2 linked regions of the Homo sapiens genome follow. The protein of the gene in region 2 interacts with the protein of the main gene of each other region in a pairwise test. Each region holds a gene or a part of one and is shown on either strand. Other genes may lie near its edges.

The links. Proteins that work in one complex are often made in the same cells at the same time.
Region 1: the proteins of NOXA1 (region 2) and DUSP4 interact in binary tests that used the Homo sapiens proteins (3 or more experiments, as listed by UniProt).

What each region holds. Positions count from the first base shown.
Region 1 is NC_000008.11:29,349,237-29,352,980, forward strand, and holds the start of DUSP4 (dual specificity protein phosphatase 4), read right to left. Parts: upstream 1,449-3,744; 5' UTR 1,043-1,448; coding exon 610-1,042; intron 1-609. UniProt on the Homo sapiens protein: Regulates mitogenic signal transduction by dephosphorylating both Thr and Tyr residues on MAP kinases ERK1 and ERK2.
Region 2 is NC_000009.12:137,426,436-137,430,179, reverse strand, and holds part of NOXA1 (NADPH oxidase activator 1), read right to left. Parts: exon of another isoform or gene 2,148-3,744; coding exon 2,039-2,147; intron 1,740-2,038; exon of another isoform or gene 1,564-1,739; intron 1,299-1,563; coding exon 1,164-1,298; intron 905-1,163; coding exon 797-904; intron 1-796.

The DNA.
Region 1 (3,744 bases), on a different chromosome or scaffold from region 2:
CCCGGGACGGGGATTGGCCACCTTCCAAGCTGAGCTTGGAGTTGGGCAGCGGGAACGCAGATACAGATCGCTCTACACAGTGTGTGCAACCCAATCTCCCTTTCTGCATTTGCCAGGGTCTTGTTTTCAGTGAAACTGGCAAGGCCAATTGTACCTCGGCGCCCACCCCTCTTCACCTTTTCTCCACCTCTGGGATTCTCCCGGTCCGGCTCAGTGTAGGGCCCCAGCACGCCAAACCAACAGGCCTATCTTGTCCCCACGCGCCCCGTGGTACTTGGAAACTGTTCCCGGGACTCAAGATGGACCGCGCAGAGGAGTCGCTTCATCCTCGAGGCTAGGACCGTTAATGTCAATAAACGGGGCCTCGCTAGGACGGTGCGGAATTGCAGGTGACCGGAGAAACCCGTCCGCACTTTCCCTGAGGACTTGAACCTCGCACTTGCACAGAAACCTTGCAAACCCCTACACACCAACACACACAAAGGGGCGCGCGGGGATCCCCGCAACCACGAATCACGCCGGGGACTCCTTCCCGTGCCAATAAGGCGCAGGCCGCCAAGACCCCCTCCATCTCCCCGACTCCAGCTAGCGCCCGGAGCCCTCGTTTACCTTTGAGCAGGCAGATGTCGGTGCGCTCGGCGTTGCGGCGCAGCGCCTGCACCACCAGCGACACGGTGCTGTCCTCGCGGAGGCTCTCGGCGCGCGGGCTGCGCTCGTCGTAGACGATGACCGCCGAGTAGAGGCCGGAGCGCAAGCGGGCGCGTACCTCCTCCTCGGCGGGCAGGATCTGCTCCAGGCTCACGGAGCCCTTAGCCCGCCGCCGCACGATGGTGTTACAGCGCACGTTGACCGAACCTAGGATGTAGCCCGCGCTGTGCGCCAGGAACGGTCTGCAGTCCAGCAGCAGGCACTTGCCGCCGCTCGGCAGCCCCAGGGTGCCGTGGCTGCCGCTGCCGCCCGCGCCGCCGCCATTCTCGTCCCGGTTCATCAGCCTTTTGAGCACACTGCAGTCCATCTCCCGCAGCTCCTCCATCGTCACCATGGTCGCCGGGAACCGAGGCGGCTGGGCGCGCGAGGAAGAGAAGAGAACCCGGGCCGCCTAGGCTGCAGAAAGGGGCGGGCGAGAGCTAAGAAGGGACGCCTGCAGAAGTGGCCGCAAACTTGGTCCTCAAGGGCTCCCGCGGGAGAGCCTCTTCTTCCCTGTCCCCTTCCTCCCGCAGCCTCGCGGTCACATAGCAGTCGGAGCGGCCTCGGGCGCCCAGCCGGGCGGCGCGCAGAGCGGAGGGGGAGGCGCCGGTGGAGGAGAGTGTGTTTACGAGAGAGGACCGCGGACTCTTTTCGGCGACGGCCTCCCGTGTATTTTTGCCGGTCGCGCGGCTCCTGTCGCCACTGGCGCCAGCGCTGCCCTGCCTACGCTCCTCCGGCGCTCAGCGCACTGCCCCAGCCAGAGTTTTCTCCTCGGCTTAGAGGTTTATTAATGCTCCTCCGCGCTCCCGGGGGAGGGGGCGCTAGGTACTACCCCGCCAGGCCCCGCCCCGTTCCATTCCGGGCCCCGCGCCGTCCCCCGCCCCCCGCGCTGTCCCCCGCCCCCCGCGCTGACTCCCCGCCCCCTCCGGGCCCCTCCTCCCACCCCCTCCCCGGAGCTTGAATGGAGCGCGGCCGCTGGCTCCCGGTCACGGGAACTCGACGTCACAAAGAGCGGAGTAAACAGGGCGCCGGGTGCTCGCCATCAGGCCCATTCATAAAACCGAGGCCGAGAGGAAGAGGGAGGCGGCCTCCGACCCGCCGCCAGCGGCGGGCAGCGCCCGGACTTTGTGAATGGAGCGCGCGGCGCCTTTCGCCGTCTACCCGCGGGCCCAGCCTGCGCCGCGCCTCCAGCCCGACACCGGCACCTGTGCCGCCGCTGCACCCCGCCGCTAGGCGGGCGGCGCCAAAGGAAATAGCCGGCTGAGGAGGCCAGGGCTCGGGTTTGAGCTTTCATCCCTTGGCACCTTCGCGCTTCCCCGCGTGACAGCCCCGTAGGTTTTTCCCGGTTACCCAAGTGGAGAGGGGACCGGAGCGCTGCTGCCCACCCAGCGGGGCCTGACACCTCCTAGCCCCAGACTCCCCGTGCGCTTTCGGCCCGGCCAGTCCTTTCTGAATATGCGATTCCTGAGACGTTAGCGTATGCATTAGCGTGATCGATTTTCATCTAAAGCCATTAAATCAGTTTTATAGCTTCCCCAAGAACGTGGGCAACCCCCTGCTTGGAAGATGAAAGAGAAAGTCCTCCCGCCCGAAGCCCAGGATCGGAGTGAGGTGTGGGGTTTGTTGCTTTACTACCCAAAGGGAGGCATTAATTGCCGGAATGGTGTTCCGAGGGAGGAGAGCAGGCTGCGCTCCTGTCCACGCTTCCTAAAAGATGTTTATTTAACCCTGGTCGGGGGAAAAACAAGGTTTTCGGGTTTGGGAAACGTCTTCACCCTATCTTGCATAGTTGTGAATTATCCTTTCAGGAAATGACAGGGTCCACATTTGTTGCGGAGCTGGACCCTGGAAAATGTACCCGCAAAGAATGACCTTTTGAAAGGACTTCAGCAGCTCTGGGTCCGATTCATGTTTCTGGGCATCCCTTTTTCCTGGTCACGTAGCAGCCCTCCCCATCCCCATTTCTCTTTTGCATTTAATTTCCCAGAGGCGGCTTTTGGCTGGGGGTTTGTGCACGCACGCGGTGGGGACCGTGCAGAAGCCAAAAATCATTCGCCCGACATCTTGCCAAGTCTTGTTAGTGAGAATTAATCACAGAGCAAGGGAGTTACAGGACTCGCTCGCAGTTTCGGAGGCTGCAGAGTAGCGTATTCCATTCCGGGGCGCGCGTGGAAGCCCGACCCAGGCAGCGAGGGCACCGGTACCCGCCGGGTCTCTCCCGCCCAAGCTCACCCTCTCCCCATGCCTTTGTTCCGGGCGGAGCGGCTTTCCCGAGCTCTCACCTCCGGTCCCGGGGGCCATCCCTGCACTCCCCGACCGGAGCTCGGCGGAGCCTCCACTTCCGAGACCTTCGACTGGCCTCGTCCCCCACTGGGCCCCGAATGCCTCGACCCCCGGGCCCTACTCGGATGAGCTGTAGGGGCACCGCTTGGGCAAGGTGATATTTCCTTTTGCTCCGGGCTCCAAAATGGCTTACGATGGCACTGCACGGATCCTTTCTCTTTTTAAAATTTAGTATTTTATTCATCATGGATTTTTTGCATTTTTTTTTCTTTTAAAGAGGCATTGCATCAAGATATTTCTTTTGATTACTGACTTTTCGGCGCCCTTCTTAAATGTTGCGCTCAAGGCTTGTGCTCACCCTAGTCCAGGCCCTGGAAGGAGCCACAACTGTGGACTGACCGAGGCTGCCCGGTGGCAGGACCCTGGGCGTCGGGCACTCCGGGTGGGAGATCAGTGGTCAAAGCCGCACGGCGTGGCCTCCCTGTGGGGAGGGCAAAAGGTGTCTGAGTCCAGTTTCCCATTCTGCTGAATGGGACTGTGGGGGTCTATCTAATAACTCGCTTTCGATAAGGAGCAAGGAGCCCCAGGGGCCCCGACAGTCCAAGGCTGATTTTGCTTTCCCGGGTTGCTCTCCAGCAGCTCAGAAATCCGCCGCCTGCCAGGACCCAGGGCCGGAGCTCTCCCGGCGCAAGTAAACACTGATTCCTTTACAAAGGCTTTAACAAGACATTTCTGGGAAAAGCCTCTCAGGAGGCAGGTCCGGGCCAATTTCAC
Region 2 (3,744 bases):
CCTTGCTATCTGTGGCAGGGACACAGGGACCCCCCCAGGGACCTCGCTATCTGTGGCAGGGACACAGGGAGACCCCCCGGGACCTCGCTATCTGTGGCAGGGACACAGGCACCCCCGCCCCCCGGGACCTCGCTAGCTGTGGCAGAGACACAGGCACCCCCCCCGGGACCTCGCTACCTGTGGCAGGGACACAGGCACCCCCCTGGGACCTCGCTGTCTGTGGCAGGGACACAGGCACCCCCCCGGGGACCTCGCTATCTGTGGCAGGCACACAGGCATCCCCCCAGGACCTCGCTATCTGTGGCAGGGACGCAGGGACCCCCCCCCCCCGGGACCTCGCTATCTGTGGCAGGGACGCAGGGACCCCCCCGGGACCTCGCTATCTGTGGCAGGGACGCAGGGACCCCCCCGGGACCTCGCTGTCTGTGGCAGGGACACAGGGAGACACAAAGGCATGAAAGGACGCAGAGAGACGCAGGGACTCTGGGAGGCTGCAAGGCTGTGGCTGTGGCCATGGCCCAGTCTGGGGGCGGGGTGGCACCTGCAGGGTCCTTGTTGAGAGAGCTGGAGCCCCCTCCTATGCAGCCGGCTCTAGTGGGCTCTGCCTTCAAGCTCACAGCCCCATTTGGGGCACCGCCCCCCTACCGTGGGCGCCAGTTTGAGGATGGCTGTGGGCCCACTCTCTACCCTCCTGGCCCTTACGGTGGCCTGGACTGCACCTCCCCCCATCCCTGGGAACACAGTTCGAGGGCTCAGCACCAGCCGCCATGCCCCAGGACGCCGTCCCCACCTTTACCTTGGCCTTGCCCAGGAAATCCACGGGCTCCAAGTGCTTCAGGTGCCACCGGTGGGGCCGGAAGACCTCGCCCCTGGGGACCTGCCGTGGCGGCAGTGAGCCCCGTCTCTGGAGGGGGTGGGTATCCAGCAGATGCAGACGGGGTGACCAACCAGGCCTGCAGCCGCAGAGCCCCTGTGCCTTGGAGCAGAAGGGGCCGCTTGGGCCCCCCACCCCCTTCCCGCAGGTCACAGGAAGCCCCCGCCTGGCACCCGAAACTGGGCACTAGGGCCATCTCCCTCCGGAAGCTTCTTCATCTCATGAAATTGGTCTTGAGGAGCTTTGGTAGGCACCAGCCCAAAACCATGACCGGGCTGGCACTCCTCACCTGCACTTGGTCCAGGGCTGAGTCCAGGCCATTCAGGGACCCCTCCGGCCACTTGGACATGGCCTCCCTTAGGCTGCTGGCCGCCTCTGTCCAGAGCCCCAGCTGGCACTGTGCCGACGCCACATTGTGTAGCACCTGGGAGTGGGGCCAAGGTGATGGCAGGGGCCTGATGCCCCACCCAGGCCCTCTCCCGGTTCCCCCACCCAGCTCCTCCCTCGGTCTGCCCACCCAGCCCCTCCCCCAGTCCCCCCACCTGGCCCCTCCCCCATCCCCCCACCCAGCCTCTCCCCCAGTCCCCCCACCTGGCTTCTCCCCCGTCTCCCCACCCAGCTCCTCTCCCAATCCCCCCACCCGGCCCCTCCCCTGCACCGTTCTGTGTCCTGGGCTGGCGGGCCCCCACCTGGCTTTAACCCTGACTCCAGACCCACACCAGTGGGCTTTCCCTTCCATCTTTTTGTCCTAAAAGACAATGCTATTCCCAGAAGGCTTCAGGGCGATGCATTTCCGGGGTCTGGTGGGGGGGCCTCTCAGCACCCCTCCTTCGGTGCCAACACGTTCCAGGCAGCCAGGAAAGGGCTGGGGGCACAGTGGAGGGTGGGCACAACCCCCTGCCTGCTCCCTGCCCACCCAGCAGCCTTTCGCCTCTGCCCTCCTTCTGGGTGGAGCCACCCCTGGTGGCCTGAAATGGCACAAAATGGTCCCTCCACCTCCACTGCCACCAGAACCTCCTGCGGGTCAAGGAGTGGCCAGGGTATTCCATGGCACCAAGAGCTTCGGCCAGAGGCGCTCCCCAGTCCACAGGGCCCTCCTGTGACAGTGCCACCGCCCGTGGACACCCCACAGCCAGCAGCACAGTGAGCCCTGCCCGGCCTCACCTCCCAGGCTTGCAGCTTGAACCGCAGGCCCAGCTGCGTGTAGTCGATGGCAGCGTGGCCCCTCAGCTGCTCCAGGGCCAGCCAGAAGTCAGACAGAGCCTCCTGGAACCTGTGGGCAGCCGGGGTCCCCTCAGCAGCACAGGGCGGAGATGGGGCTGTGGTTAGGCAGCTTTCACACCAGCCCCGCTCGAGCCGCCCCCAACACCTGGTTCCAAGGAGACCTGAGGGAGGGCAGTGCGGTGCCTAGGTCTGCACACTCAGGTCTGGTGGGCCAGGGGTCCATGCACATGTGTGCTGAGTGGGTGTGGGGGTCACTGTGTGCTGGGGCTCCACCATTTTCCCAGCTCAGACTCAGCTTCCTGGGCCCCTGCCCGCCCCCAAGCCTCTCTTCTGAACCGTGCAGAGAGCCCTGGTTATTTCCCTCCTGCTTCTCAGGCCCCCCACCCCATGGGGGCTCCCCCTCCAAACTCTGAGCCTCCTTCCAAGCCTTGCTGGGAGCTCCCCAGCGCCTGCCGGAGAGGCCTCTCCTCCAGGCGGGCTTCCCGCGCCGATGTGAAGGAGAGGCTGCCCCAGAGGGGTCTGGATCGTAATCCAGAAAGGGACAGTCCCACAGCCATAATCCCGAATGCTGGGACTCTTCAGTAAAGGAAGAGATGGCTTTTTCGTTCATCTGCCTTTCTGAAAGGTAAAATATCTCCAGATCCGGGCTCTCTGGGCGACTGCGTATGTGGTGGTCCCTGAAGCCTTTGATGGATCTTGTTAGAAGGTGGGTTGTTCATCTTGGTGTTTTGATGACCAGTTATAAAGCCAGGTGCACACAGTCACCAGCCAGAGTCTACGCACCTACGTCTTACCCCTTCTGACCTAGCTCCTCATGAGCACTGTTCATCTGCTCGTAGTTCTCACACCCGTGAGCCTGTCGCTAGCGTGCATGAATTTGTGCTTGAAAAAATATGTATGTTATTTTTGTCTATTTTATCGGCCAATGAAGGGTTCCGTCGTGTTTTTATGTTTCTCAAATAAATCCCTTTAAAATATGTAAATAGGCTGGGCGAGGTGGCTCATTCCTGTAATCCCAGCACTTTGGGAGGCCGAGGCGGGTGGATCACCTGAGGTCAGGAGTTCGAGACCAGCCTGGCCAACATGGTGATGCCCAGTCTCTACTAAAAATACAAAAATTAGCCAGGCGTGGTGGCACATGCCTGTAATCCCAGCTACCCGGGAGGCTAAGGCAGGAGAATCGCTTGAACCCAGGAGGCGGAGGTTGCAGTGAGCCGAGATCGCACAATTGCACTCCAGCCTGGATGACAGAGCAAGGCTCCTTCTCAAAACAATTTTTAAAAAGTAAATAAATATCTTTTACAGAATTTTATTTTTTCTAGAATTATATTTTTTGGGATTTTAGATTTGAGGGGTTTTGATATTTCAGGATTGCGAGGCTCTCGGGACTGTGATCCACTTCCCCACAGAGCCTGCCCTCCTGGGATGGGGCCTGTGAGTGTCTAGCAGAGAGGCCGAGGCATGGCCTGGTCTGCAGTCCCGATGGTCTCCTTTCCCTCATTCCTCCTTTAGGAAGGGACATGGTGCAGAGAGCCCAGGTAAGCAGTGAGGACCCCACGACCTGTGTCCAAGGGTGGCGCTCAGCAGAGGCGAGGGCCACAGTCTCAGGTTTCCCTGGAGCCAGGAACCATGGAGGAGGGGGTGGG